2 linked regions of the Homo sapiens genome follow. The protein of the gene in region 1 interacts with the protein of each later gene in a pairwise test. Each region holds a gene or a part of one and is shown in the gene's direction. Other genes may lie near its edges. The genes, in order: ZNF280A and ENOPH1.

Region 1 (15,770 bases):
AAAGTGAGACACTGTGTATTTGTCTCTGTATGTCTGGCTTATTTCACTTAACATAATGCCAACTGGGTTTATCTATATTGTTGCAAATAACAGAATTTCCTTTGATTCTAAGGCTGAATAGTCACCAGGTATGGTGGCTCTTGCCTGTAAGCCTAGCAGTTTGGGAGGCTGTATTAGTCCATTTTCACACTGCTGATAAAGACATACCTGAGCCTGGGTAATTTATAAAGAAAAATAAATTTGATGGACTTGGAGTTCCACGTAGCTGGGGAGGCCTCACAATCATGGTGGAAGGCAAAAGACACATCTTATATGGCAGCAGGCAAGAGAGAATGAGAGCCAAGTGAAAGGGGGAAACCCCTTAGAAAACCATCAGATCTCATGAGACTTACTCACTATCATGAGAACAGTATGGGGGAAACCTCCCTCATGACTCAGCTATCTCCCACTGGGTCCCTCCTACAACACGTGGGAATTACGGGAGCTACAATTCAAAATGAGCTTTGGGTGGGGACACAGCCAAACCATGTCAGAGGCCGAGGCAGGAGGATCACTTGAGTATAGTATATATAAAAATATAAAATGAAGGAAGGGGCCGGGAACAAGGGCTCACACCTGTAATCCTAGCACTTTGGGTGGCCGAGATGGGCAGATCACCTGAGGTCAGGAGTTCAAGATCAGCCTGGCCAACATGGTGAAACCCCATCTCTACTAAAAATACAAAAAATTAGCCGAGCGTGGTGGTATGCACCTATAATTCCAGCTACTGGGGAGGTTGAGGCAGGAGAATCACTTGAACCTGGGTGGCAGAGGTTGCAGTGAGCCGAGACTGCGCCACTGCACTCCAGCCTAGAAGACAGAGTGAGACCCTGTCTCAAAAAATAAAAATAAAAATAAAAATAAATAAAATTAAATGAAAGAAGAATCCCTGGCATGGCACTAAATTTAAATGGAAATATGAGTACACTGTATTTTCTAGGTCTGTCTACTGAAGCAATAACAATTGAGCATACTTAGTGCCCAGATCTTCAATGTTTTTTTAAAATTTTGATTGACAGATGACAATTTGTATATATTTTATGATGTACATGATAAATATATGTGCACACATTGTGTAATGATTAAATCAAGCCAATTAACATATCAATCAAGCCAATTAATATAGCAATCACCTCATATTTATAATTTTGTGATGAGAACATTCAAAATCTACTCACTCAGCAATTTTAAAATATACTATACATTATTATTAATTATAGTCACCATGCTGTAAGACTATATGTTAGGTCTCCAAAACTAATAATTCCTCCTGTTTAACCGAAACTTTGTACCTTTTAGCCTATTCTCCCCATCCTCTACCCGTCCTGACCCTAATAACTACCATTTTACTCTCTGCTTCTGTGAGTTTAACTTTTTTAGATTCCACCTATAAGTGAGACACTGTGTATTGGTCTCTCTATGTCTGACTTATTTCACTTAACATAATGTCATCCAGGTTTATCCATGTTGTTGCAAATAACAGAACTTCCTTTGATTTTAAGGCTGAATTTTAAGGCTGAATAGTGGTAAGGCATGGTGGCTTTTGCCTGTCATCCTAGCACTTTGGGAGGCCAAGGCGGGAGGATCACTTGAGTACAGGCATTTGTGACCAGCCTGGGCAACAAAGTGAGACCTTGTCCCTACAGAAATTTGTTTTTTAATTAGCCAGGTGTTGGTGGCATGCACTTGTGGTCCCAGTTACTTTGGAGGCTGAGGTGGGAGGATTGCTTGAATTCAGGAGTTCAAGGCGGCAGTGAGTTATGATCGTCGTGCCACTGCACTCCAGCCTGGGTGACAGAGGAAGATATTGTTTCAAAAAAAAAAAAAAGAAAGAAAGGCTGAATACCATTTTATTGTGTATACATACCACACTATCTTTATCCATTCATCATGAACACTTAGGTTGATTCCACATCTTGACTGTGGTGAATAGTCCTGCAATGTACATGAGAGTAAAGATACCTCTTTAACATATAGATTTCATTTCCTTCGGATATATACCCAGAAATGGAATTGCTGAATCATATGGTAGCTCTATTTTTAATATTTTGAGGAACCACCGTACTGCTTTCCATAATAGCTATATCATAGCCAGCGCAGGAGAGATGCGGGAGGTGCCACACACTTTAAAACAATTAGGTCTCAGGAGAACCCACTCACTATCACGAGGACAGTACCAAGAGGATGGTACTAAACCATTCATGAGAAATCCACCTCCATGATCCAATCACCTCTCACCAGACTTCATGTCCAACATCAGGGGTTACATTTTGACACGAGATCTGGTTGATTACAACATCCAAACTGTATCAGGGGGCATGTCAAAAAAGACATGGAGAGCAAGACTGCCAAAAGCAGAGAGCAGAAACACATTTCCACCTTCGGGCACCTTCTGATGCTCTTGGATTCCATTTGGGCAGAGTAAGTACTAGCTCTCTGCAGACCCTGGACTAAGGCCTGTGGCTGCAATGAAAAGAACCTTAGGAGGAAACTCAGGAATAAAAACAGAGAAAGTGAGACTTGAGACTGAAATTATGAAACCAAGGAACTAGAAAACCCTGAGAACAGTTGATTAAAACACGGAATGACCGGGAGATCCAGAGTTTCATCAAAGAACGGGAATTACTTTCCTTTTTTTTTTGAGACAGTCTTACTCTGTTGCCGAGGCTGGAATGCAGTGGTGTGATCTCGGCAAACTGCAACCTCTGCCTCCCAGGTTCCAGGTGATCCTCCTACCTCAGCCTCCCAAGTAGCTGGGACTATAGGCACCCACCACCACGCTCAGCTAATTTTTCTATTTTTTTGTAGAGACAGGGTTTCGCCATGTTGCCCAGGCTGGTCTCCAACTTCTGGCCTCCCAAAGTGCTGGGATTACAGGCATGAGCCACCATACCTGGCTAGGAATTTCTTTAATGTGAAGAGTTGAGGAAGAAGAATCATGAATAGTCTAAAGCAATCGACTAGCATCTCAAGCAGTGGGGCATAAAGAAGAGTTGGCAGCACTGTCTCCAGATGGTGATAAGTTTGCAGGACTCCTACTGGACTACTGATGAGGACAAACAGAGACCAAGGAACCAACCCTGGCCCTGTCCTCATGGTTCTACATAGGATTCTGGGATACAGATGGAAGGACAGCGGTTTTTCAGTTTCTCCTTGTGCAAATATGGTTGTTTTTCCAACTCCCAAGTACCAGCCCCAGGTTTGCCATCCCCATTTGCTTTGAGGAACTGCTGTCACACCCCTGTCCATGATCTCCGTGAAAGATCCTCAGGTACCAAGATCGGAGTTCTGGAGCATGAACCGTCCAGGGTCAGCTCCATGCCTGTTTTCTGCTGTTCTCCCAGCAGCCCCCAGTCCCCAGCAGCAGCAGTCAACCTCTTTGGGCTCTGATTCAGATCCCTGAATTTAAAAATAACTAGAACCTAGATCCCAATACTGTCTGAAGGATAATAGAACAGCACAATTGTATGCGCTGGTGCATAACTCCTTCCTCTCTCAGACTGATGTAATGAGAATCAGGTGTGAAATAAATGAATAATCATGACTCTCTCTCTCAAAAAAGGAAAAATAAAGATATGGGGAGCATGGTAAAGGGACTCTCACTTGACATTTGAAGCATCAAAAAAATAATGACAGTATCTGTTTATAACATTTTTAAATAACATAAATCTTCCTGGTGCCACACTGATAGACAAATCAACATTCTTCTTTACAAAAGAATTAATAAATATTGAAGGAATGATAGAATTTGAAAATGGCCATTCATAAAGTAGGAGATTAGACATACTGTCACTCATACGCATCTTTGCATCCTTCACGTCTATTTTTTTTTTTGAGACACAGTCTTGCTCTGTCGCCCAGGCTGGAGTGCAGTGGCGTGATCTCGGCTCACTGCAAGCTCCGCCTCCTGGGTTTGCACCATTCTCCTGCCTCAGCCTCCCAAGTAGCTGGGACTACAGGCGCCCGCCACCACGCCCGGCTAATTTTTTTGTATTTTTAGTAGAGACGGAGTTTCACTGTGTTAGCCAGGATGCTCTTGATCTCCTAACCTCGTGATTCACCCGCCTTGGCCTGCCAAAGTGCTGGGATTAACAGGCGTGAGCCACCACGCCCAGCCTTGACCAACAATATCTTAACTGCTATGTCCCCTACCCAAATCACTGACCTCATCTTTCATCTCCGCTGGTCCTTTAACTGGAGCCACACTTGTCTCTGTGCTCTTCCTTTTTCAGGCCATGAAATGCCTGTGCCTCTGTGTCTTTCTTCTGGCTGGAAAATTCTCCTGATAGTCACCTTTCTTCTCTCCTTCTTTTCTTCCTTTGATGTAACTGTCTCACAAACAGCAATTCCAACTCTGAGTTCATCTGATTAGGCATCTCTTTGTGCATCCCCCAAATTTAACTTCTAGCACTCTGTTTCATAAACACAGCAAGGTGGCATGAGTGATGGTCTGTCCCTGACCTGCATCCATTCCCGACGCGCCATCCATTTCCTATTCTGTGCCTTAAAGCAATAAAGGATTCAAGATTTCAGCCATTTTTTCTTCTTCTTTTTTAATCTTAAGGTCTGCTTCTACCAGTCATTTGAAAAACATATTGTGACAAGCTTTAATCTCATCACTGGAATTCTTTGTTTGGAAAGTGGGGCTGGTCCGAAACAGTCCTGGAGAGTGTTTCCCAGTGGAAACTTCCCAAAGGCAGACTGATAAAGAATCAGCTATGGCTGGGCGTGGTGGCTCACGCCTTTAATCCTAGCACTTTGGGAGGCCGAGGTGGGCAGATTACCTGAGATCAGGAGTTCAAGACCAGCCTGGCCAACATGGTGAAACCCTGTCTCTACTAAAAATACAAACATTAGCCGGGCGTGTTGGCTCATGCCTGTAATCCCAGCTACTTGAGAGGCTGAGGCACGAGAATTGCTTGAGCCTGGGAGACGGAGGTTGCAGTGAGCAGAGATCACACCACTGTACTCCAGCCTGGCCAACAGAGTGAAGTCTGAAAAAAAAGAATCAGTTATGGAGGGCAGGGTGCGGGTAGTTCACGCCTGTAATCCCAGAACTTTGGGAGGCCGAGGTGGGAAGTTTGCTTGAGCTCAGGAGCTTGAGACCAGTTCAGGCAACATAGTGAGACCTCATCTCTACTCAAAAATAAAAGTAAATCAGTTAGACATGGTGGCATCTGCCTATTGTCCTGGCTACTTGGGAGGCTGAGGTGGGAGGATCGCTCGGGTCCAGGACATCAAGACTGCATGATCGTTCCACTGCACTCCAGCCTGGGCAACAGAGTGTGAGACCATGTCTCAAAAAACAAATAAATAAATAAATAAAATTTTTTAAAAAAATCAATGATGAGGATGTTTCACCACATTCTGTGACCTTTGGATGCATTACAGTTAGTTTTCTGCAGAAAAGGAGGATACATTTTATAAGGAAACATAAATGTTTCATAGGAAAGGCATGTATCCTGATGCAAATTTATATTCAGACCATGTGATTTTATTTTTACTAGATTAGTGGGTTAGAATAGCTTGGTTAGAACAGCTAGATGTGGTCTTATTTGGGACTTTTAAAACTGAGCAAAAGAAAATAAGATGCAACTCCGAGCTATTTCTAGACACTCCTCTCAATTTTCTCACCTCCCACAAGCATTGTTGCCACAACCTTCTGTCTCAGGGGAAGGGCCTGCTTTATACCTGAGCCAGCCCCTGACCACTGCCTAGGCTTCCTGGAATCTTCCTAGCAGGATTCTGCTTCTGGAAAAGAGGAAGGAGTGAATATCAGTTCTGCAGAATACACATTTCCTTTCCTTTCTTTCCTTCCTTTTTTTCTCTTTCTTTCCTTCTTTCTTTCTCTGTCTTCCTTTCTTTTTTCTTTTTTTATTTTTTTGAGACAGGGTTTCACTCTGTCACCCAGGCTAATTTTTTGTATTTTCTTGTGGAGACACGGTTTTGCCAGGTTGCCCAGGCTAGTCTCAAACTCCTGGGCTCAAGCCACCTGCCTGCCTCTGCCTAAGCGCTGGGATTACAGGCGTGAGCCACCACGCCCGGCCCCTGTTAGAACTTTACTGTCTAAGTCTTGCACTTCATTTCACTTTGCTTGCTTATTTATTTATGAATGAATGAATGAGACAAGGTCTCTCTCTTCCATCCAGGCTAAAGTATGTGATGCAATCATAGTTCACTGCAACCTCGATCTCCCTGGTTCAAGCAATCCTCCCACCTCAGCCTCCCGGGTAGCTGGGACTACAGGCACGTGCTACAATGCCTGGCTAATTAAAAAAAATTTTTTTTCTTTTGTAGAAACAGAGGTCTTGATATTTTGCTGAGGTTTGTCTGGATTTCCTGGGCTCAAAGATCTTTCACCTCAGCCTTTGATAGCTGGGACTACAGGTGTACCTCAGTAGCGGGCCTCATTTCACCTTCCTTTCCAGGGTCATGCTCTTGGCTACTTGCAATGCCCTCAAGCAGCCTTTCCCCAGTCCCTAGACAAGAATAAAGACCATGGGTCACACACTTTTATACCACCTTGGGCTCTGCCTACTGGGTTCAAGTGATTATTCTGCCTCAGCCTCCCGAGTACCTGGGATTACAGGCACGCACGGCCACGCCCAGGAAATTTTTGTATTTTACTTTATAAAGAATAAGAGACAGGTTTTCACCATGTTGGCCAGGCTGGTCTCAAACTACTGGGCTCATGTGATCTGCTGCCTCGGCCTTCAAAAGTGCTGGGATTACAGATGTGAGTCACCACATCCGGCCCAGAAAGGTATTTTTAAAGTTTTATCAGGAGATGGTACTTTAGAACATTTTAATTTGCAAATGATTTTCGTTTTAATTTTGAGACTTGATTGCATTGCGTTGGAATGGGGGTGGAAATATAAATATTTCTTACCTGTCAAGGGACTCTTGAGGCTCCCCCTCCCCCGCTTTCTAATCTGTGTTGCAAAGCCTGTAAAGAGAGTGAAAGGGTGGGCCTGAAATTCAGCTGAGAAGGTTCCAGGGAGGGGGTAGTGAAGGAGGAGGGAGGAGGGAGAGACAGAGGGAAGGAAGTGAGAGGGCATGGGAGGGAACCAGGATAGACCTTTGACCCCTGGAAATGGATTAAGAAGGGAGTGGGCTGCTGCTTGGAGAAAGCTGTTGAAGACTCACAGTGAGGACCCTGTTTGGACACCTGGAAACTCCTACGGGAGCTCGGTCTTCAAGGGCTGTGAGATTGAGACCCACCCTGTCCCCTGGGGCTCCTACTGGAAAGACATCTGCTTTTCAACTCGCTCACCTCTGAGCTTTGTTGGAACAGACATGTGGACTGCCTCCCACTCCGCATCCCTTCTCATCCCCAATAGCTGAGGGCCCAGGCACACTGCAGAGAAAGTGGTAGACTCTGAACAAGAGAGAGAGGAGGGAGGATGCCCATCACCAGCTCAATCAACCTGGAAGGCAGCCCTGAAGCCCCACCCTCATTCTTTCCTTTGAGTAGCAATTGGAGGAAAACTTTTGGCAATCAAGCTGGACAACAACTGAAAATCCAATCAGGATAAACTGCTTCAGACACGTGACTGGAAAAATGATTGGGCTATAAGGGGCTTAAAAGGAGTGGGACCTTCTGATCTGGCCTCAGAAAGGACTTTGAAGAGCAAGCGGCGTTGTTCGCCTGCGGAAGCAGTGCTGCCGGTCTCTGGACAAATTTCTCCGGGAGGTGGAGACAAGGAAGCTCCAGCTTCGCTTTCCCTTGCGGCCCAGAGTGGAACATACTGAGCTGCACTGAATCATCTGGATGCACTCGCAACTTTAGGAACTGGTGAGCTGAGAAATTTGCTATCTTTCATTTTGCTCCTCTAAAACTAGAGCTGGCAAACTTGTTCTGTGAAAGACTAGATGGCAAATATTTTAGGCATTGCAATTCTCTGCTTCAACTACAGTAGTCTTCCCTTATCCAGGGTATTCCTTTCTGTGCTTTCAGTTACCTGAGGTTCCAAAATATTAATTGGAAAATTCCAGAAATAGGCAATACATAAATTTTAAGTCGCCAGCCCTTCTGAGTAGTGTGATAAGCTCTTGAGTCAGCCCTGCCCTGGGATGGTAATCCTCCCTTTGTCCTGAGTCCCCATGCTGTTGGCTGGCTGCGCTCTCTGTACCTTAGTCACTTAGGAGCGGTCGCAGTTATCAGAGTGACTGTCCTGGTGGTATCTCAGTGCTTGTGTTCAATTAACCCTTATGGTACTTAATAATGGCCCCAAAGTACAAGGGTAGCAATGCTGGCGATTCAAATATGCCAAAAAGAAGCTGTAAAGTGCTTGCTTCCTTTAAGTGAAAATGGGAAAGTTTTTAACATAATAAGGAAAGAAAACAAAATCGTATGCTAAGGTTGCCAAGATCTACAGTACATAAAGATATTTTGTCAGCGAGAGATTGCATTCACATACCTTTAATTTAATTTATTAATTTATTTTTTTGAAACGGAGTTTCACTCTGGCCGCCCAGGCTGGAGTGCCACGGTGCGATCTCGGCTCACTGCAACCCACGCCTCCCGGGTTCAAGTGATTCTCCTGCCTCAGCCTCCCAAGTAGCTGAGATTACAGGTGCTCGCCACTCTGCCCAGATAATTTTTGTATTTTTAGTAGAGATGGGTTTCACCATGTTGGCCAGGCTGGTCTCAAACTCCTGACCTCAGGTGATCCACCCACCTCAGCCTCCCAAAGTGCTGAGGTTACAGGCATGAGCCACCACGCCCTATCTCACATATCTTTTATTACAGTATATTGTTATAATTATTTTGTTATGCTTAACCTCTTACTGTGCCTATTTATAAATTAAGCTTGATCATAGGTATGTACATATATGAAAAAATATAGTATATATTGAATTTGGTTCCATCTGCAGTTTCAAGCATCCACTTCGGGGGTCTTGGAACATATGCCCCAAAGATAAGGGGGTACTACTGTACTCAACTGTGTCATAGAAGTGTGAAAGCAGCCATGGACAACAGCACTAAAAAAATGATTATGGCTGTGTTCCACAACACTTTATGGTGAACACTGACATTTTGAATGTTATATAATTTTCACATCACAAAATATTCCTTTTTTCTTTTTTTTTTTTTTGAGACAGTCTCACTCTGTCACCCAGGCTGGAGCACAGTGGTGCGATCTTCGCTCACTGCAACCTCCACCTCCCAGGTTCAAGAGATTCTCCTGCCTCAGCCTCCCGAGTAGCTGGGACTACAGGCATCTGCTACCATGCCTGGCTAATTTTTGTATTTTTAGTAGAGAAGGGGTTTCACCATGTTGGCCAGGCTGGTCTCGAACTCCTGAGCTCAAGTGATCTGCCCACCTCGGCCTCCCAAAAGTGCTGGGATTACAGGCGTGAGCCACCGCGCCCCGCTTCCTTTTGCATGTTTATTCCCCCAAATTTAAAAATGTACAAGTTTAAAAAAATCTTAATAAAAAAAAAGTAAGAAAACAATACCTTAAAAATGTAAGAAACATTCTTGGCTTCCTGACTGTACAAAAACAGGGGAAGGGCCAATTTTCCAATTTCTGTCTTAAACCATTGTTTGCCAAAATGTAGCTGATATCCATTAGAGAACTACAAAACAAGTTTAGTGTGCTGTCAGCTTACAAAAAGAAATAGGATTTTTCACTGACTATAAGATGCCATCAATTGGCCGGGCACAGTGGCTCATGCCTGTAATCCCAGCACTTTGGGAGGCCGAGGCGGGCGGATCACGAGGTCAGGAGATCGAGACCATCCTGGCTAACACGGTGAAACCCCGTCTCTACTAAAAATACAAAAAATTAGCCGGGCGAGGTGGCGGGCGCCTGTAGTCCCAGCTACGCGGGAGACTGAGGCAGGAGAATGGCGTGAACCCCGCGGGGCGGAGCCTGCAGTGAGCCGAGATCGCACCACTGCACTCCAGCCTGGGCGACAGAGCGAGACTCCATCTCAAAAAAAAAAAAAAAAAGATGCCATCAATTATAAAAGATACATTACTCTCCTTTTTTTTTTTTTTTACATCAGATGTTAAACATGCTGATATAACAAGGTTTGAGGGAAGCACATCTCACATGAGTGAAAACCCAAGCATCACGCTTATCCTCACAAAAGGATCTGAGATATGTCATTTTTGATTCCACTATGAAATAAAAATATATACTGCAAAAACAAATTATGAAATGTATTTTATATTGATGAGATGCTATGATGAGATGCAATCTGATTTAGAGATGTTAAAATGGAAATCTAAGCCTATACCTTAGAATCAATAAAATATGGCATAGAAGGTATCAGAGCCTATCCCTTGTGGTAAGGTGAAGGTATTAGAGTATTTGACAAAACTTTTGTTTCAATTTACACACACATACACACAGGTTTACCTTCTCCCTTGTACAACAGTATTAAATCATTTGGATTTGGATTTCATTAAATGCTTAGAGAATCTGGAATAATGGATTAGAGCCTCTGGTACACCTAAATGATCATATTAATAACAGCTACTATTTATTTAACAAAGATTTAGCATGCACAGTATGACAGACATTGCTCTATAAGCTGAGGAGTAAATGAAACACAACTCCCTGCCCTCGTGTGGCATACAGTTTAGTGGGTAAACACAGAAAAGAAACAAGTTATATTTTTAAATTTTTTGTAGAGATGGGTCTTGCTATGTTGCCCAGGCTGGTCTCGAGCTCCTGACCTCAAGCAATCCTTCCGCCTTGGCCTTACAAAGTGTTGGGATTACAGGTACGAGCCACTGCACCTGTCCCATTTTTTGTTGTTGTTTTAAGACACAGAGTCTTCCTTTCCTCTGTCACCCAGGCTGGATGCAGTGACATGATATATCTCACTGTAATCTCAAACTCCTGGGCTTGCAAGATATATTTTACATATTGTGTGGTAGGCAGTGATAAATGCTAAGTTGAAAAATAACATTGAGGGTTTGAACATATGAGTTAAGGAGGTTGTGATTTTTGATATTGTGGTCAGGTAAGCCTTGCTGAAGAGGAACCATGGGACTGAGGCAGACCAGGAGCCCAGATGGGGTTAATCTGGGGAAAGAGGCACGCAACGTCCGGGAACAACAAAAGTTCTGAAAAAGAAAAAGGCCTGCTGTGTTCCAGATTCACGGAGCTCAGGATGGCTGCATCAGAGCAACAGAGGAGTTAGCAAGGGCGATGATGACCTAAGGTTCCATGGGGAAATTTAAAGTTTGCTGGTATTTCCTATGAATGAAATGGAAAGTCATTGAAGACTTAAGAGCGAAATATACTTGCTCCCCTGTATATTTTAACAGGGGCATTGGGGCCACCATGGGGAGATCTGACAAAACTTTTAAGACTGGCAACTTCTGCAGTGATCCAGGGAGAGAACATGGTACCTTCCATCAGGGAGGTGGCAGTAGATGTGGAAGAGAGTAGTCAGATTCTGGATATCTTTAAAAGATAGAGCAGACTAGCTTTGCTAATTGATTGGCTGTAGTGTATGAGAGAAAGTCTGGCAAAGGATGACTCTGAAGTTTGTAGACTGAGCAACTGAGTTTACTGAGAAAAGGAACATTACAGGAACAGCAAAGGGTGTGTGTGTGTGTGTGTGCTGTGATTTGTGTGTGTGTGTGTTTGTGTGATGGGGTCTCATTTGGTTGCCCAGGCTGGAGTGCAGTGGCATGAACATAGCTTTGAAGTCCTGGGCTCAAGTGTTCCTCTTGGCTCAGCCTCCCAAGTAGCTGGGACCACAGGTGTGTACCACCATGCCAAGCTAATTTTTTTTAATTTTTAAATTTTTTTGTAGAGATGGGGTCTTGCTATGTTGCCCAGGCTAGGAGCAGAATGTTTTTGAGAGAAGTTTTGTTCAAGTTGGTTAGAAACCTTAGACATCTGAGAGAGTACCTGTGGGATGAGGAGGAGGTGAGTGAGGCATCTAGAGTGCAAAATTTAGAGGCAAGCACTCTGAGATGTTCCATCTGCACCTCCTGAAATCTTGCTTCCTTTGCCTCACAACTGCAGAAGACCAGGGGAGGAGAGACAGGTAAATTTGAAATTATTATGCCATTTAAAATGTTTCAAGCCTCATTTCTGACGTGTAAAATAGAGATGTTGATGGTTATCTCAGTGTTTTAAGGGAGGATACAATAAAGTAATGATTTTGTCTTTCGAAATAAATATTGACTATTGTCACATGGTTGCACTTAGGTGGCAATTTGTAAAAAGACAGCTCTGGAAGTTGAAGAGACCAGTGGCTTCAAGCAAAAAGTAAATTGAAAATGGGAGATATCTTTTTGTGTAAGAAAGTGGAATCACCAAAGAAGAATTTGAGAGAATCCAAACAAAGGGAGGAGGATGATGAAGATCCAGATCTGATCTATGTTGGGGTGGAGCATGTACATAGAGATGCTGAAGTTCTCTTTGTCGGGATGATTTCAAATTCAAAACCAGTCGTTTCAAACATTTTGAACAGAGTCACCCCAGGCTCAAATTCAAGAAGAAAGAAAGGCCACTTCCGTCAATATCCTGCTCACGTGTCGCAGCCTGCAAATCATGTGACCTCTATGGCAAAAGCCATCATGCCGGTTTCTCTGTCTGAGGGGCGATCGACAGATAGTCCTGTCACTATGAAGTCTTCATCTGAACCTGGTTATAAAATGAGCTCACCACAAGTTGTTTCTCCCAGTTCCTCAGACTCGCTCCCCCCAGGGACTCAGTGTCTAGTTGGAGCTATGGTCTCTGGAGGAGGCAGAAATGAGAGTTCTCCTGATTCAAAGCGACTTTCCACTTCAGATATAAACAGCAGAGATTCCAAAAGGGTTAAACTCAGGGATGGAATCCCAGGGGTACCTTCTTTAGCTGTGGTCCCTTCAGATATGTCTTCTACAATAAGCACAAATACACCCTCACAGGGGATCTGCAACTCATCAAACCATGTTCAGAATGGAGTAACATTTCCTTGGCCTGATGCTAATGGAAAGGCACATTTCAATCTTACAGATCCAGAGAGAGCAAGTGAGTCTGCCCTGGCAATGACAGACATTTCAAGTCTAGCAAGTCAAAACAAGACCTTTGATCCCAAGAAAGAAAATCCCATCGTGTTACTTAGCGACTTTTACTATGGACAGCATAAAGGAGATGGGCAGCCGGAACAGAAGACTCACACCACCTTTAAATGCCTCAGCTGCGTGAAAGTTCTAAAAAATATTAAGTTTATGAATCACATGAAGCATCATTTGGAATTTGAGAAGCAGAGGAACGACAGCTGGGAAGACCACACCACCTGCCAGCACTGCCACCGGCAGTTTCCCACTCCCTTCCAGCTACAGTGTCACATTGATAGTGTACACATCGCCATGGGGCCCTCTGCTGTCTGTAAAATCTGTGAATTGTCATTTGAAACAGATCAGGTCCTCTTACAACACATGAAGGACCATCATAAGCCTGGCGAAATGCCTTATGTGTGCCAGGTTTGCCATTACAGATCGTCGGTCTTTGCTGATGTGGAAACACATTTTAGAACGTGCCATGAAAACACAAAGAATTTGCTTTGTCTGTTTTGTCTCAAACTTTTCAAAACTGCAATACCATACATGAATCATTGTTGGAGGCACAGCAGAAGGAGGGTCCTTCAGTGTTCCAAGTGCCGGCTACAGTTTTTGACGTTGAAGGAGGAAATAGAGCACAAAACCAAGGACCATCAAACATTTAAAAAGCCGGAGCAACTGCAAGGGTTGCCTAGTGAAACAAAAGTTATTATTCAAACTTCAGTTCAGCCAGGATCAAGTGGTATGGCTTCCGTTATTGTTAGCAACACTGACCCTCAGTCTTCTCCTGTAAAAACTAAAAAGAAGACGGCTATGAACACTAGAGATTCCAGACTCCCTTGCAGCAAGGATTCTAGCTGAAAATATGTTCGACTGACTTCCAGGAGTTCCGAAAGGCAGAAGTGAGGCTAGGCCATATGTGCATTGTGGCTGTAGATGCTAGCAAGCAATGTCATCAACTGTCAGGTTGTTTTTTACAGTGACATCTCATCAGCTCCCTATTGTCAAGAAGTAGCTCCAAAGTCTTTGAGCCCTTTCCCAGTCAAATGCTCCCAACAGGGCATCCCTTATTCTGACCTCAGAGGTTTTTCTTGTTCATGAACTTTAAATAAATGGAATCACACAAAGATTCTTGTCTTTGGCTTTTTAAAATAAGTGAGATGGCTGGGTGTGATGGCTCATGCCTGTAATCCCAGCACTTTGGGAGACTGAGGTGGGTGGATCACTTGGGGTCAGAAGTTTGAGACCAGGCTGGCCAACATAGTGAAACCCCTTCTCTGCATAAAATAGAAAAATTAGCCAAGCGTGGTGGTGGGCGCCTGTAGTCCCAGCTACTCGGGAGGCTGAGGCAGGAGAATCGCTTGAACCTGGGAGGGGGGAGTTTGCACTGAGCTGAGATCGCGCCACTGCCCTCCAGCCTGGGTGACAGAGCATGACTGTCTCAAAATAAAGTAAAATGAAATAAAATAAGTGAGATGCATTTTTGCTGTGTGTAGCAGTAGCACATTCTTTTTCATTGCTGGGTAGAATTTTGTTGAGTGACTGTGGCAGTTTTGTATAAATTTATTTCACTGTTGATGGACTTTGAGGCTGATTCTTTGGCAATTTTGAATAAAGCTGCTATGAGCTTGTGCGTGTCTTTTGGTAAGCATGTAATCATTTCTCGTGGGTATATATAGCTATGAGAAGTGCTGGAACTGCATATATTTAGCTGTCTAGTGTAGATACTGCCAAATACATTTCCAGAGTGATTGAAACGATTTACATTCCCACCACCGATACTGCGAATTCCATTGCTACTGATCCAGCACTTGGTACTGTCAGTCCTTTTAGTAAGTGCCCTTCTCTTGAAATTGTAGTGGTACCTTATTGTGGCTTTAATTTGCACTTCCCTGATGATTAATGGACCTTGAGATTATATAGTTATCGGCCACGTGAGTATTTCTTTTTATTAAATGTCTATTCAAGTTTTGCCCCCTCCTACCTTTTTAAAAACTGGGCTGTCGACTGGGAAGGGTGCTGGGGCACTGGAAATGTCCCATATTTGGATCTAAATCGTGGTTTTATGGTTTATCTTTCATGAGTCTTATTTAAGAAATTGTCTACAAACGACATAAAGATATTCCTTCTATGTTCTAGAAGCTTTACTGTTTTGATGAGACATCTCAAACTGATTTTTTGTTAATGGTGTGATAAGGCATGAAGACTAATTTTTTCATATACATACCCAAAATCAATCAGCACCACTTACTAAAAAGACCACTCCTTCCCTACTGTATTGCCGTGGAAACTGTGAATCAGGTATGATTGTATATATGTGTTTCTGGAATCTATTTCATTTCATTTGTCCTGTTCTCTATCCTTGTGCTAATGCTGCAGTATCTTAATTATTGTAGCTTTGCATAATCCTCCGTGTGGTAGTTTCATTTCTCCAACTTTGGTGTTCAAAATTGCCTTGGCTATTCCAAATGCTTTGCGAATTGAAGTGGCTTTCATGGGTGTGCTTTTCTTGGTCTCAAACTCAGGTAGAATAGTTTACTTTAATTGTGATGTTAGCTGTGGGGCTCTTTGTAGTTACCCACTGAGTACACGGGAATCAACTTACAAATCAGTAACAGAAAGATCACTGAAAAAAAACCCAAAGTTCCTAAATTAGGCAATACATTTCTAAACAGGGCTGGGACTAGGGTGAGGCAAGCAGGGAACCTAA
Region 2 (14,920 bases), on another chromosome or scaffold:
ACGTCTCTATATTAGTCTGTTCTCACATTGCTGTAAAGAAATACCTGAGAGTGGGTAATTTTTAAGAAAAGAGGTTTAATTGGCTCACAGGTCTACAGGCTATACAGGAAACATAGCGGCATCTGCTTCTGGGGAGACCTCAGGAAGCTTCTAATCATGATGGAAGGCAAAGCCGGAGCAGGCGTCTCAGATGGTGAAAGTCAGGAGCAAGAGAGTGGGGAGGGGAGGTGCTACACACTTTAAAACAACCAGAACTCACTATTGTGAGGACAGCATCAAGGAGGATGGTGCTAAACAAACCATTCACGAGAAGTCTATCCCCGCGATCCAGTCACCTCCCACTAGGCCTCACCTCCAGCACTGAGGATTACATTTCAATGTGCAATTTGGGTGGGGACACACATCCAAGCCATGTCATTCTCCATATGACAGTACTTCATCATTTTGCACTCCCTCCTTCCTTACTGCAAGCCCCTGCTGCCCCCTCTGCAGTGCTCCTGGGTCCTCACACTCACACTCCCCTTCCAGACTCCTCACCCCAGCTCACTCTGGCCCAGCCCTCATACCTCCTTTGGTCTCCTGTGCTTTGTTCTACCCTCTTCTCCCCACCAGTCATCAGTCTGTCTTTTCCTTCCACATTGTGTGCTATGGAACTCCTGCTCTGTTGTTTTTCTTGTTAAAATTGCTTCAGTGGCAAAGATCTTACATGGTCTGCAGAGCTAACTCACTGGCAGTTATTTTCTAGTTCTATATTGGATACTGTGGAATGCTCTCTGTGGATGTTTTACTGTTAGGAATTAGGATTCAAAATGTAGTTATGTCCTTTGGGCATGGAATATTTGGGATTTTAATTTTCTGGATAACTCAGGGTTAATCTGAAATACAGTGAGTCCTTACTTAATGTTGTCTTTAGGTTCTTGGAAACTAAGTGAAATGACACTTAAATTTCAATTTTCAATTTTAAACCAACCATAACAAAACCAATTTTTTCTCCACATAAATGTTATAACAAAATGATGTTGAAGGAAATGACATTACTTGAGAAGGTCATGCCACTTGAAGTCACAGTTTCCAAGAACCTTTCAATGATGTTAAATGAGGACTTACTTTACTTTCCTCCCTTACCTTTTTTTGTTGTCAAAACCTTGTTGAAACATACATACATAGTCCCCCATTATTGTATATAAATATGTACACATGTATCTTTAGAAATTGGACTGCTTTGTCACAAGGTCATTGTTCTAAGTGGCTACTAGGATTTTTGCAAGATGTGGGAGATTATAGGAGACTGAATGTGAACCAACCTCATTACTTCACTAGCTTCTTTTTGCTGAATTCCAGGCATAAACTAATTTATGAGATTTTCTTTGTTTCTTTCTCCATTAGTTATAGTGCAGAGAAAATTATCAGATTGAGTTAAAGTCCTGGTTTGTTGATCCCAGTAGTGAATCAACAAATCAAATCTTAATTCTATCATTATGTGCTCTCTCTTCTCATATACAACATGCGTCTCAGTTTAAATTTCAGCTTTTAGCAAAAGGAAAGGTAATGTAAATTTATTAATCCAGGTTCTTTTAGGAATCATTTGTATCAGCTCCAAAGTATATGATGTTTCAATTTGCAGCCATACTAGGGCTAATGATGGAGAAAGTTGTTCTGCTGGGTTTTTGGGTCTCGTTTTAAATGACTGTTTTTTGAATAAGCAAAAAACAAACATCATGTTGTTTCTGACTTAAAGGCTGAAGAGGACGCCCACCTGGATGGGGCTGTTCCTATCCCTGCAGCATCTGGGAATGGAGTGGATGATCTGCAACAGATGATCCAGGCCGTGGTAGATAATGTGTGCTGGCAGATGTCCCTGGATCGAAAGACCACTGCACTCAAACAGCTGCAGGGCCACATGTGGAGGGCGGCATTCACAGCTGGGCGCATGAAAGCAGAGTATGTGCTTGAGTCAGCCTAAACATTTCACCAGTCCCAAATCCAAATATGTTTTTTCACCAGTCCTCTCTTTCCAGCGTAAGTCACAAGACTGGTAAAACAGATAAAAATCCACACTCTTTTTAGTCTAACAAGTGAGCTTTGTTTCATTTTTTCAAAACTTGGCTAAAATATTTCAGCTGACTAGATTACCCGGACCTGCCAGTCTGGTCTTGTGGGTTGATTGAAGGACTTGTCAAAGTCTCCGTTTAAAATAGCTTCCTAGAAAATGGTGACTTCCTTGAACTAAGTCATATTTGATTCTTAGCACATGAGTGACAGCTCCGTTGGGCTGCTTGCCTGGACTGTTAATTACCTGCTTTTTGCTCTATGAGACATAGGAAATTTTGTGCCCCACCGTGTTGAGGTTACTCAGAGGATGTCCGCACTACCACGTTCTTCTTTGCTCTTTTGAGCAACTTCCACAGATTCTTTGAGTCTTGGTTATGGAGTTCCTAATAGCACTCCTGCCTGAGGAGACTTTTGAGTATTATACTTACTGAGAAATTCTTGATTGATTCAGACAGGGTCCTACTCTGTTGGCTGGAGTGCAGTGGCATGATCATGGCTCACTGCAGCCTTGACCTCCCCTAGTTCAGGTGATCCTCCCACCTCAGCCTACCGAGTAGCTGGGACTAGGCATGTGCCACCATGCCCAGCTAGTTTTTGTATTTTTAGTACAGATGGGGTTCTACCATGTTGCCCAGGCTAGTCTCAAACTTCTGGGCTTGAGCGATCTGCCTGCCTTGGACTCCCAAAATGCTGGGGTTACAGGCGTAAGTCACAATACCTGGCCTATTTTTTTTTTTTTAGAGCTGGGGTCTTGCTCTGTGATCCACACTGGAGTGCAGTGGTGCCATCATAGCTCACTGTAGCCTTCAAGTGAACCTCCCGCCTCAGCCTCCTCATTAGCTGGGACCACAGGCACGCACCACCACACCTGGCTATTCAAAAAACATTTTTGTAGAGGTGTGGTCTTGCTATGTTGTCCATACCATATTGCTGATAAATTCTTTTCGTTTGTTTGTTTCTGTTTTTGCTTTGAGACCGAGTCTTGCTCTTTGCCCAGGCTGGAGTGCAGTGGCGCAATCTCAGCTCACTGCAACTTCTACCTCCTGGGTTCAAGCGATTCTCCTGCCTCAGCCTCTGGAGTAGCCGCCTGCCACTATGCTAATTTTTGTATTTTTAGTAGACATGGGGTTTCACCATATTGGCCAGGCTGGTCTTGAACTCCTGACCTCAAGTGGTCCACCCCATCTCAGCCTCCCAAACTGCTAGGATTACAGGTATGAGCCACCCCTCCCGGCCTATTTTTGTTTTTGGAGATAGTCTCACTCTGTTGTCCAGGATGGAGTGCATTCACACAATCTTAGCTCACTGCAACCTCCGCCCTCTGGGTTCAAGCAATTCTTGTACCTCAGCCTCCCAAACAGCGGGGACTACAGGTGCGTGCCACCACACCTGGCTAATTTTTTGTATTTTAGTAGAGACAGGGTTTTATCATGTTGTCCAGGCTGGTCTTAAGCTCCTGAGCTCAGGGCAGTCCACCTACCTTGGCCTCCCAAAGTGCTAGGATTACAGGCGTGAGCCACTGTGCCAGGCCTGCTGAGAAATTCTTTTTTTTTTTTTTTTTTTGAGACGGAGTCTTGCTCTGTCACCCAGGCTGGAGTGCAGTGGCGTGATCTCAGCTCGCTGCAAGCTCCGCCTCCTGGGTTCACGCCATTCTCCTGCCTCAGCCTCCCGAGTAGCTGGGACTACAGGCGTGTGCCACCACGCCCGGCTAATTTTTTGTATTTTTAGTAGAGACAGTGTTTCACCGTGTTAGCCAGGATGCTCTCGATCTCCTGACCTTGTGATCCGCCCCCCCTTGGCCTCCCAAAGTGCTGGGATTACAGGTGTGAGCCACTGCACCTGGGTGTGAAATTCTTAAGGATTTTAGGCCATTGCCTGCTGTAAACCCTAGGATCCAAGATTGTTTCCAGCTGCATATATTTCTTTTGTGTTTCTGTCAAATGAGATGTTGTTTCTTTATTTATGTACTTTACGAGGAGCTTCTACCTTTTAAAGGATGGACTGGAATTTCAGGATATGCCAGTGATCTGGGAATATCAGCCAGGTTCACTTTGTAAAGCACTCAAAAAAGTGGAGACAGGAGACTGTGCACCCGGTAGTTAGCCCATACTTCTCTTGGTCTTGGTTCCTTAATTATACAACTAACTGCTGAAGACAGGAAAAATCCTGTCTCCATGAGTGCAAACTAGTACTCAGAATAACATACTTACATGTGTACTGGTTTTGAATACGTTGATCTCTTTCCTTCAATTAGTGCAACATGTTAAGCATGTTAATACATATAAAGCGGAAGACTCCACTGACATTTTCCAGGTAATCTTTTAGAGATGACTGGTTCTACAACCCAAGTTCTTTGTGCTTCTCTTTTCACCTTTCTCCTGTGATGTTAATTTCCTCCATGACTATGGAAAACACTAGAATTGGTAAGAGAGACTGAGTGTCAGAAGTCAGAAAAAGACATCTTTTGCTGACTGGTTAATGTGAGTTGGTACAAGTCTCAACTGACTTGTTATGTAATTTTTTCCCCATATAATAAAACATTGTTTTCTTAGTTCTCAAAAAATGCAGGCCGGGTGCAGTGGCTCATGCCTGTAATCCCAGCACTTTGGGAGGCTGAAGTGGGGGGATCACTTGAGTCCAGGAGTTTGAGACCAGCCTGGGTGACATGGCAAAGCACCATCTCTACAAAAAATTAAAAAAAAAAAAAAAAAGCTGGGGGTGGTAGCACATGCTTGTAGTCCCAACTACCTGGGAGGCTGAGGTGGGAGGATCACTCGAGCCCAGGAGGTAGAGGTTGCAGTGAGCTGAGATCATGCCACTGCACTCCAGCCTAGGCAACAGAGCAAGACCCTGTCTCAAAAAAAAGTAATTCCATTTTCTAGCTAATCATAAGTTTATAGCTTTGAGCCTTCAAACTTTGTTTTGATTATTTTGGGTGCAGATCTTTCTAAAAGCATTTCCATGCTTTCTTAAAGCACAGTGGACATAATTTAACCTTTTCTTGTCATGAAGAACATCAAAGATTATATTATATCATTGCTGTTGTTTGCTTTTTTGAGTTCTTCGGGAATTTAAAAAACACTTTCCCATTTCATCCTTTTATCTGTAGTCCCTTTTTACTGTCACTAGTGGCTGTCTGTTCAAAACTATCCTCCTTTCCACATAGATTGTTGCTTCTAATCTGCTGTGAGCCTGGAACTTGGGCAGTATGTTTATTAGAACTGCAGGAGTTTGTAGTCTCAGGGAGCTGCTTCTCAGGTTACCATGTGGGCACAAAGAGAGAAACATATGGCATCTGTTTTGACAGGTTTTTATCTGGCTAGATGAGGTGTTCCTGTATTTTAACTTAGTGGTCTTCCCTCTAGGTTCTTTGCAGATGTAGTTCCAGCAGTCAGGAAGTGGAGAGAGGCCGGAATGAAGGTGTACATCTATTCCTCAGGGAGTGTGGAGGCACAGAAACTGTTATTCGGGCATTCTACGGAGGGAGATATTCTTGAGGTAGGTTACCTAGTTTACTTTGTTGTTTTGACGCTATCAAAGCATAAAATAATGAATCTTAATGGAAAACTAATTGGAACTAATAGAATGCTTTTTTTTTTTTGGTTGTTTAAAATTAGGTAAGAAGAAAATAATCACTTTTAATTATATTGTATTTACAGTTTCTTCTATATAAGGTTGTTATATAAAGTTTATTCTGTGTCTTGAAAAATAAAATCAGTTAGGATGCAAAATAGGATTGTGCAGTCCTGAGAAATATATAAAGACTTTTTGAATACAGCAGAGAACAAGGTGCACTCATTTGTTTCTGGCTCTTTGAAGAAATATAGATTTCATTTAAGAAGAACCAGCATTATTATAGGAGAACCAGGCACATTTTTAAATGTAATAAGGTCGTCACCTGTTGCATTTCATGTACATGAGAAAATTCTTGCTAGCCCCTCTGTGTCATCATCCCTGCACCCCCTGGAGGATGGGGTGATCAGTGAAAGAAGTGACTACATTTAGGGTTTTAAAAAGAAGTGCTGATTAGCTGAATATAGACCAAACTTAACAATAGGTAACTTGGAATATAGACTTAACTTAAAATAGGTTACTTACAATAGGTAACTTGACCAGATACTTTTTAAAAATAAATATTTACCGGCCGGGCGCAGTGGCTCACGCCTGTAATTCCAGCACTTTTGGAGGCCAAGGTGGGCGGATCACGAGGTCAGGAGATCGAGACCATCCTGGCTAACATGGTGAAACCCCGTCTCTACTAAAAATACAAAAAAAAAAAATTAGCCGGACGTGGTGGCGGGCACCTGTAGTCCCAGCTACTCGGGAGGCTGAGGCAGGAGAATGGCTTGAACCCAGGAGGCGGAGCTTACAGTGAGCTGAGATCGTGCCACTGCACTCCAGCCTGGGCGATAGAGTGAGATTCCATCTCAAAAAAAAAAAAATTTACTTATTTTAACTTACAATAGGTAACTTGAATATAGACCGAACTTATAATAGGTTACTTACAATAGGTAACTTGGCCAGACAAGTTTTTAAAATAAATATGTATTGAGCACCTACCATGTGCAAAGAACACTTTGGCTTTGGAGGTTGTAATATTCTAATTTTAGTATTTTCCTACTTTCTGTCTTATTTTTAAATCAAATATTAATAATGAAACCCTTTAATCATTGGTGACTGTTCTCTTAATACAGATACAACTTCTTTTCTGCTCTCTCTGACAATCATGACAGGACAAAAGTACCTACTGAGTTCACTAATAAGAATTTTACTCTCTAGTTACCAAGTGAGGCAAACTGCAAGAAAAAGAAAATAAGCAAAATCAGTTTTAACTTTAAAAAAAAAAAACTTAAAATTACTTTTTTTTTTTTTTTTACCTTCCCATTGGCCAAACCCAGTTTGAGTGCTTACTATGCTTGTTTTTAGTTTGTGAAAAGTTCTGAAAACATTCAAAAGATCACATCTTAGTAACTGACCCTAAATATGGACTTATTTTAATTACTGTTGGTCAAATTAGCAAGTTACAGATTTGACTCCAATTGTTTCCAAGAGGGCAGAGACATAGACGAGCCCTTGGGTAGAATTTCAAAACGTTTTAACTAGAAAATGAGAATTTCTTGTAAGTAAAATAATAGCTTATTCATGAGGCAGGTTAGAGAAATTTTTTCATCGTAAGATTAAAGGACAGTGTTCAGAATCTTTCATCAGGAGTAAAATTCAATCCAGTGAGTAGTTTGAGTGCAAATCATCTTTAAGGGTAGGATGTAGGGCATGTTTATTTTAAACTATTTCAGATGTAAAATGAACGGTAGTGAAAACCAGGTAGATTATGAAATGATCTTATGTATGTTGAGCTGGTAGTTTTCTTCTTCCAAATGTCTGTTGCTATAAAATCTTTATTTTTACTTTGTATAGCCTCCATAAAGTTCCCTATTAAGTAGATTTTCAGAAAATACTGAACGAATGAAGTAATTGTGATTGTCATGTATTTCAGAGAAAGGCATGAGGGGCATGCAAGTGTATTTGTATTGCCAGTCTTTCCCCTTCTCTTTGTTCAGCTTGTTGATGGTCACTTTGATACCAAGATTGGACACAAAGTAGAGAGTGAAAGTTACCGAAAGATTGCAGACAGCATTGGGTGCTCAACCAACAACATTTTGTTTCTGACAGATGTTACTCGAGGTGAGTAATAGACTTCTTATATTATATACTCCAGGATATGAACTGAGCCTGGCACTACAAATACATTGCCTCTTTAAAGAAACTTTATATGGGGATCCTTGAAAAATAAAACAGTTTTACGGTTTTATATAAAGAAACAGTGTCTGGTTCAAGTTCATGTTTGAATTAAAAAAAAAAAACACAGCAGTGAAGGCAGGCTTGGTGGCTCATGCCTGTAATCCCAGCACTTCTGTGGGCTCAGGCAGGAGGATTGCTTGAACCCAGGAGTTCGACACTAGCCTGGGCAACAATGTAAGACCTCTGTCTCTACAGAAAAATTCAGAAAGTTAGTTGGGTATGATGGCTCACTCCTGTGGTCCCAGCTGCATGGGAGGCTGAGGCAGGGGCATCAGGTGAGCCCAGGAGGTCGAGGCCGCAGTGAGCCGTGTTTGTGCCACTGCACTCCAGCCTGGGTGACAGAGCAAGACTGTCTCAAAAAAGAATGAACCAACTCTGGGGGTTGCATGTGGGGAAGTGGCATTGAAAAGACTAACTCTTCTCGTTTAACTCCTTGTCCGTGATTTCCCAGCCATCGCTATGTACACACACACACACACTATGACACAGGAAATTAACAGGAAGACTTAGAGGAGTTGTCATGGGAAGGAGCATGCAAGCGGGGTTGTGAGTATAAGGGGTAGGTAGTTGAGCCAGCCAGTTCTGGGATTAAATGCACAGTTCCATTTGTGATCCCCGGACCTTTGCTCTATCTCAATATTAAGAATTATAACCCCTGTCCTTAGACCACTTATAGTTTCTTCATATTCTTGTGTTTAGCCACTTAATTTTTGTATTTGGGATCACATAGTACATCTATAATTTCAGATCTTTCTCTTCTCATTTAAGCCATTTCCTCAGTTGCAATTGTAGAAATTATTCCTAATTTTGGAGAATAGAAATAATCCCTAAATTGGCTTCAAAATGAAATTAGCTCCCTTTGATTCTCTGTAAGGAGGTTTTATTCCTGCCCTTCATCTTCTGCTGGCCCCATACACACTTAGGCCAGAACTTGGGTCATCGGCAGCTGGGATGAGGCAGGGAGCTGTCTGCCTGCTTGCTCTTTTCTCTCTGGTCCTGTTTTGGTACCACATGCCCAGACTTCCACTGCTGAGGCAGAATGAAAAACTAAGTTAATATCCCAAATAATGGCTGGGCGCGGTAACTCACACCTATAATCCTAGCACTTTGGGAGGCCAAGGTGGGTGGATCATTTGAGGTCAGGAATTCAAGACCAGCCTGGCCAACATGGTGAAACCTTGTGTCTACTAAAATACAAATATTAGCCAGGCAGTAGTGGTACACGCCTGTAATCCTGGCTACTCGGCTGGGGGCTGAGGCAGGAGAATTGCTTGAGCCTGGGAGGCGGAGGTTGGGATGAGCCGAGATCATGCCACTGCACTCCAGCCTGAGCGACAGAGAGAGACCCTTCTGAAAAAACACAATAAAATAAAAAATAAAATCCCAAATAATACCCAAGTATGAAAAAGTGTCTCAGCATTACAACAGTAGAGCAAATAGATGCTTAGGGATAAAACTTGCCCTGCAGTGAATTAGATAAAAAGCCTGAATATGGAACGGCCACTTGTAGTGTCAAGTCCCATGTGGATTGTGATGGCTTAACTTGGTCATATTCCCGGGTTGCCAGTCACGATGAAAACTTTGCTCAGGGCAGTCAGGCTAGGAAGTAGGGGTGAGTGGAAGATAGCTGCCTTTCTCCAATGGCATCTGCAGAGGTGGTCTGAAGAAGACATTCCCACACAGAGAGGGGAGTCTTGAGTACTGTTTGCTCTGGGAAAGTGACAGGCCCTTTCACAGGCAGAACAGAAAGCAGGCACTTGAGGAGGTGGGTGGGTGGAAGAAACAGCTCAGCCCCAGTGTGTCTCCTGGGAACTTAACTCTCTCAGCACGACTGCCCTTCAGTTAATCTGTTCAGGTGCTGTGACTCTTCTCCAAAGGCTGAGAAACTAATGGTGATTACTCTTACACCAAATCTAAATTCCACGGGATTTATATATATATATTCCAGATTTCTCACCAGTTTTGTTCTATCTGTCCTAGTAAGCGCCATCTCTCTTATCACAGGCCTGTATCCCATTTCCCACTCTAACTTGCTCCATTCTAGGCTGGGAGTATGACATGTTTAGGGTCTGGAGGTAAGAGCAGATATCTTGGGCTGATTAAACCATAGGATTCCATTTGTCCCATTATCTTCTTTGTGTTTTTATTTTTTTGATACAGGGTCTCACTCTGTCACCCAGGCTGGAGTGCAGTAGTGCGATCTCGGCTTGCTGCAGCCTTGACCTCCTGGGCTTAAGCAATCCTCCCACCTCAGCACTCTTGAGTAGCTGGGACTACAGGCACACGCCACCACGCCCGGCTAATTTTTGTATTGTTTTGTAGAGATAGAGTTTCACCATGTTGCCCAGGCTGGTCTCGAACTCTTGGACTCAAGTCTGGCGTTCAAGTGAACTCCTGGGTCCACCGTGCCCAGCCCCATATCATTTTAATTCGTGTTACCAACAGCTTGTCCTTTGGGAAACAGCTCAGTTCTCGGTATGGGCTGATGGGAGGAAGTGGAGGAAAGGTGTAGGACAGAACATGGCTCCATCCTTCTGCATTCATAAGTACTTAATAAAGCTCAGAAGTGTAGGATACACTGCCATTCTCTTCTGTCAAGTACAGTTACGTATTTTTTAAAATTTTATCATGGAAAAATTAAAACATACATAAAAGAGATAATAATATAGTCAACCCCAGGGTGCCCATCTTTTAGCTTCAACAGTCATCAAATCAGGGCCAAATTCATTTCTTCCATCCCCACATCCCCCTGCTGACTTTGCTGCAAATCTCAGACATCATTTTTTGGTGTTTCTGACACACACACATCCTTTGATTTTTCACAGAGGCCAGTGCTGCTGAGGAAGCAGATGTGCACGTAGCTGTGGTGGTGAGACCAGGCAACGCAGGATTAACAGATGATGAGAAGACTTACTACAGCCTCATCACATCCTTCAGTGAACTATACCTGCCTTCCTCAACCTAGAGAAGGGTTGTTAAGGCAGACCGCCCTGTTCCCCAGAGTTGTCCCTGTAGTGTCTAGGTTTATTCTAATGGTAAAAGTAACTTACTTAAAAAACATATGTACACATATGTATGCAAGTATGTATATATGTGTATGCTCAGATTAACTTCCATAGGTACATAAGTGAAAGAAGTCTCAGTTCAGTGAACACAAAACTTATTTAAAGATGCTTTATATGTAGAAATTGTTTCAAATCATACTCTAACCCTTAGTGAGGGCAAAGTGTAGTTGGTAGAAGAAATTGCTAAATACCTATCTAATGTGCTATGTTTATCAAATCGTGTACTAAAATGGAAAGCTAGTTTTGAGAAATTATTCAGAAGCCTTGTTATTTTAAAAATGAAATATTTCAAAGACTGAATATTTTCAAAGAAAATGAATAATTCATTGCCCTTGTGATTTAGAAGATTATAACAGCTGTATTTCATATTTGCCTCCTTATATATATCAAAGACCAAGGTATTTCCTTCTGCTTCAAAAGAACAAAATTGGGAAAGAAAACTCACTTGAGTCTTGATCAAACAAGTGTCTTTTACTTAAGAAGAAACTTGGTAATCATTGTGGCACCCACAGCAAGCAGTTGCCTTACCAGTGAAAAAGGTGCACTGAGGTAACATCTAAAACAGAGATGTGGTTCTTAATGTTTAACAGAACAGTTCTAATCCTGCCACGTGTTATCATTATAGATTTTATAGTTGCCTTTCTAACTACTTAGCACAGTTTGAGAATACGTTAATTGCTATTTACTATTTAAAAAGTTTTACTGAAATCAGTCCATAACATTAAGATGAGCCCTAATATGTAAGATTTTCCTCTGGAATGGATGTGAGAAATGTAAATTTTATAACAGCAGTATTTATCCTGGTTTAATTCTAATACGATGTCATGTTAATTTCATGTTGTGATTAATAAAAGCATTTTTTCTTCACTCAGTTTTATATAGGTTCCTGAACTCTATCCACATGCCGCCATAGCAAAAGAGAAACTGAAAAACAAGAATATTTAGCTCTTATCTTAATCGTGTATCATGTGTGTGTTTTAATGGAGTGCCGGTGGCAATTCATGGTTATTATTTGAGTTATGTATACATATAAGGTTACTATTCCATTTGGATAGTAAGCATTCAGGATATGAGTGGAGTTCCTTATATTTTTGAGAATCTTAACTTTGAGGTCTCTAAGGTAATGCTTGAAGGAGGGAGTTACTCTCCTAACTAATCAAGAAAAACTCACGAATCCTGGAGGAGCAATTTTAGAAATGCTTTGAATAAGGAAAAAGAAGTCTTAGAACTATGAGAGGACAGGGGATATAAAAGATTTTATGTTGATAATTTTGATCTAGTAGCCAATTAAGAAATCTAGGGTCTATGAAAATATATGAATAAAAAAGAAAGGAAATGAGTTTAGGTACATCTTAGAAATGGGAATAATTTGTAAATGATGATAAAACCACAAATAGTAATAAAAGGATGAACTTAATACCTTTTTTGGAAAGCTCATAGGCAGATGGCAGAAAGGGGTATATCTTAATGTTATTTAAGGAGTAGTTGGAAAATGAAGAAATGAGAAGATTAGGCACTAGGATCTAGATTAGAAAGGAATTGAATAAAAAGGAAGGCACACAGCATCTAGCCAGCAAAGGATTGAGGTGGAGAGGCATTTTACTACCCATGTACACTGAGTAAGGAGGACAGAAAATCAATAGATTTCAGGAATTAAGAGAAAATTGAAGTATCAGATTTATTTTGCAAAGTAAGGGAAAAACTAGTTGAATGGAATCGTTTTTAGATCCTAGGAAAACCATTCACAAATGATGGAGAAAGGTCGTAGGAAGAATTTGAAAGATAAAGTAGATTGGCAAGAGAGGAAAAATACCTATCTAAGAATGTAAGCAGTGATACACAATGTATACATGTATTGAAACACCACAGTGTACCCCATAAATATGCACAGTTATGCATCATTAAAAAACTTTTTTTAATGTGGATAATGAGCTAGAAGATGAAGTCAGATGAATTCATAGTCCTTATGAGGGGAAGGAAGGCAAAAAACCTCTGGAACTTCCAAAAAGAGGACAAAGGCCTCAGCCTCTTGTTTGCAGAGAATATGGAGGACAAAAGCGTCTTAAAGTTGTGGCTCTTTTTATTCCTGTTTATTAATCCAGATGTACCTCTGTTGTTCTCTTTCCTACAGTGGCGCTGATTTCTAATCTTGGGTCAAAGCCCAGGTTGGTTTTTTAGAAGAGAAGCCCTTAACAGAAGATTCTCTAATCTTATCAACATTTCTGGAGTAGCAGGACTTCTTTTTGGTCTGGAAAGCGGGTTTTAGTTGCTACGCAGAATGTCAAATGTGTAGTTGCACAAGGAAAGGTTGAAAGCCACTGGCTTATTGCCAGGGCAGATGCACGGCAGCCTTTCCCCAGCAGATGGTGCTGTTTCTCCAGACTTGATATGAAGTGTGAGGCTCCACCCCTCCTCCCCCCCTCCCCCAACCCCCGCCCCGTCGCCCGCCAAATACAGCAGATGGAGCTAAGAGAGAGAAAACTATATTTTGTTTATCCTTACAAGCCAAAAGCTTGATGTTGCAAGAGTTGGAGTAGTTTGGAAAAAATGGCAGTAATCCTGAATGAAATCCAACTATCTAATATTCCTTTTCCTCAATAAAAAATTAGTGATTTTTAGCCCCTTTTTCCAGCGGCAGTGTTAAAAAGGGATTGTTTTCAGGGCTTTTTTTATTCCCACGAGTACAAAGTTGAGTATAATATATTCCAAAAGTTTGTTAACCTACCACCTGTGCCCAGATGGCAAAGTGATATTATCCTCAACCTAATATTTAAGAATAACGTGGAGTTTTTACTAAAACACTTGGAGTAACTGACAGAAGTAAAATTTCTACCTTACAAATTCAACCCAAATTTATTCCTTAAATATTTATTAAGCATTTACCTTGCATCCCAGATCTGCTATGAGGGGACAAAGTTCCTCTCTACTCCCATTGTGCATACATTTTTCGAGAAGAGAAACAATGGTGACTAAGACAAGAAAAAATTAGATACTAGTAAGCGCTCTGCAGAGAACACAGGGTAGAATAACTTTACAGGAGGGGTGATGAGAAGGTGACATCTAATCTAAATGACATGGAAGACATGTAGGAAACTAGGAGAACTGGTGTTCCATGCAGATGGAACAGCATAGCACAGATCTAGGGCAAAGCTTGGCCTTTTTCAGGAATTGAGAGCCCAGTGGCTGGATACCATCAGAGAAGTGGGCTGAAGCCAGATGATAGTGCTTTGTACTCCAGTAAGAAGTTTGAATTGTATTCTAAGTATGGTAAAAAGCCCCTGGAGGACTTTGAGCAGAAGATAACCTGAGTGGTTTACATATTTAAGGAATTCTGTATGGAATGGAGAATGGTTTATAAGTGGGCATGACTGCATGCAGGAAGGTGAGTTAAGTATATCAGGGTTGAGTGCTGCAGGCAAAAATCACAAGGAGTTAGGTGTATACAACATCAGTGGAAGAACTGGGAGAAGAGTCAGGGCAACTACCACTGGACTGTGGAGTTAGAGGACACCTCACAGTGGTTAGCTCAGGAAGCCTGCTACCATTGCCACTGTAGCTCATGCCCACGACGCTGGCCAGACTCTGGAATGCCAGGCCCCATTGCTGCAACCTCTCCAAACAGAACACTTCCATCTCTTCTCCAATTAGGGGGTAAAATTGGCACTTGAGAGAGTCAATCTACTGGGTCTGAGAAGGCTGTTGTAGTAATGAAGGTAAGGGATGGTGGTGGCTTGCCTTAGGGTGGTAAAAGCAGAAATAGAAGTGGAAAGATTCAGAATAGGTTTTAGACATGACAGTGACCACTTATTGATTGATTGGATTTGAAAGGGTAACTCTTACATTTTTAGCTTAAGCAACTGGATAGATGATACTACTGGAAAAATAGCAGTGCTGCTGATAATAATGTAAAGCCAATGTAGATCCTGATGTCAACATGACCGAAGAGCAGTTGGATATAAGTCTAGAGTTCAGAATGCTGGCCTGGCTGGAGATCAGATTTGAGA

Evidence for each region.
Region 2: the proteins of ZNF280A (region 1) and ENOPH1 interact in binary tests that used the Homo sapiens proteins (3 or more experiments, as listed by UniProt).

The regions. Positions count from the first base shown.
Region 1 is NC_000022.11:22,512,153-22,527,922, reverse strand, and holds ZNF280A (zinc finger protein 280A), read left to right. Parts: upstream 1-7,652; 5' UTR 7,653-7,834; intron 7,835-10,047; exon of another isoform or gene 10,048-10,143; intron 10,144-12,221; 5' UTR 12,222-12,292; coding exon 12,293-13,921; 3' UTR 13,922-14,187; downstream 14,188-15,770. UniProt on the Homo sapiens protein: May function as a transcription factor.
Region 2 is NC_000004.12:82,449,305-82,464,224, forward strand, and holds the end of ENOPH1 (enolase-phosphatase E1), read left to right. Parts: intron 1-1,738; coding exon 1,739-1,941; intron 1,942-5,417; coding exon 5,418-5,550; intron 5,551-7,610; coding exon 7,611-7,734; intron 7,735-10,676; coding exon 10,677-10,816; 3' UTR 10,817-11,873; downstream 11,874-14,920. UniProt on the Homo sapiens protein: Bifunctional enzyme that catalyzes the enolization of 2,3-diketo-5-methylthiopentyl-1-phosphate (DK-MTP-1-P) into the intermediate 2-hydroxy-3-keto-5-methylthiopentenyl-1-phosphate (HK-MTPenyl-1-P), which is then dephosphorylated to form the acireductone 1,2-dihydroxy-3-keto-5-methylthiopentene (DHK-MTPene).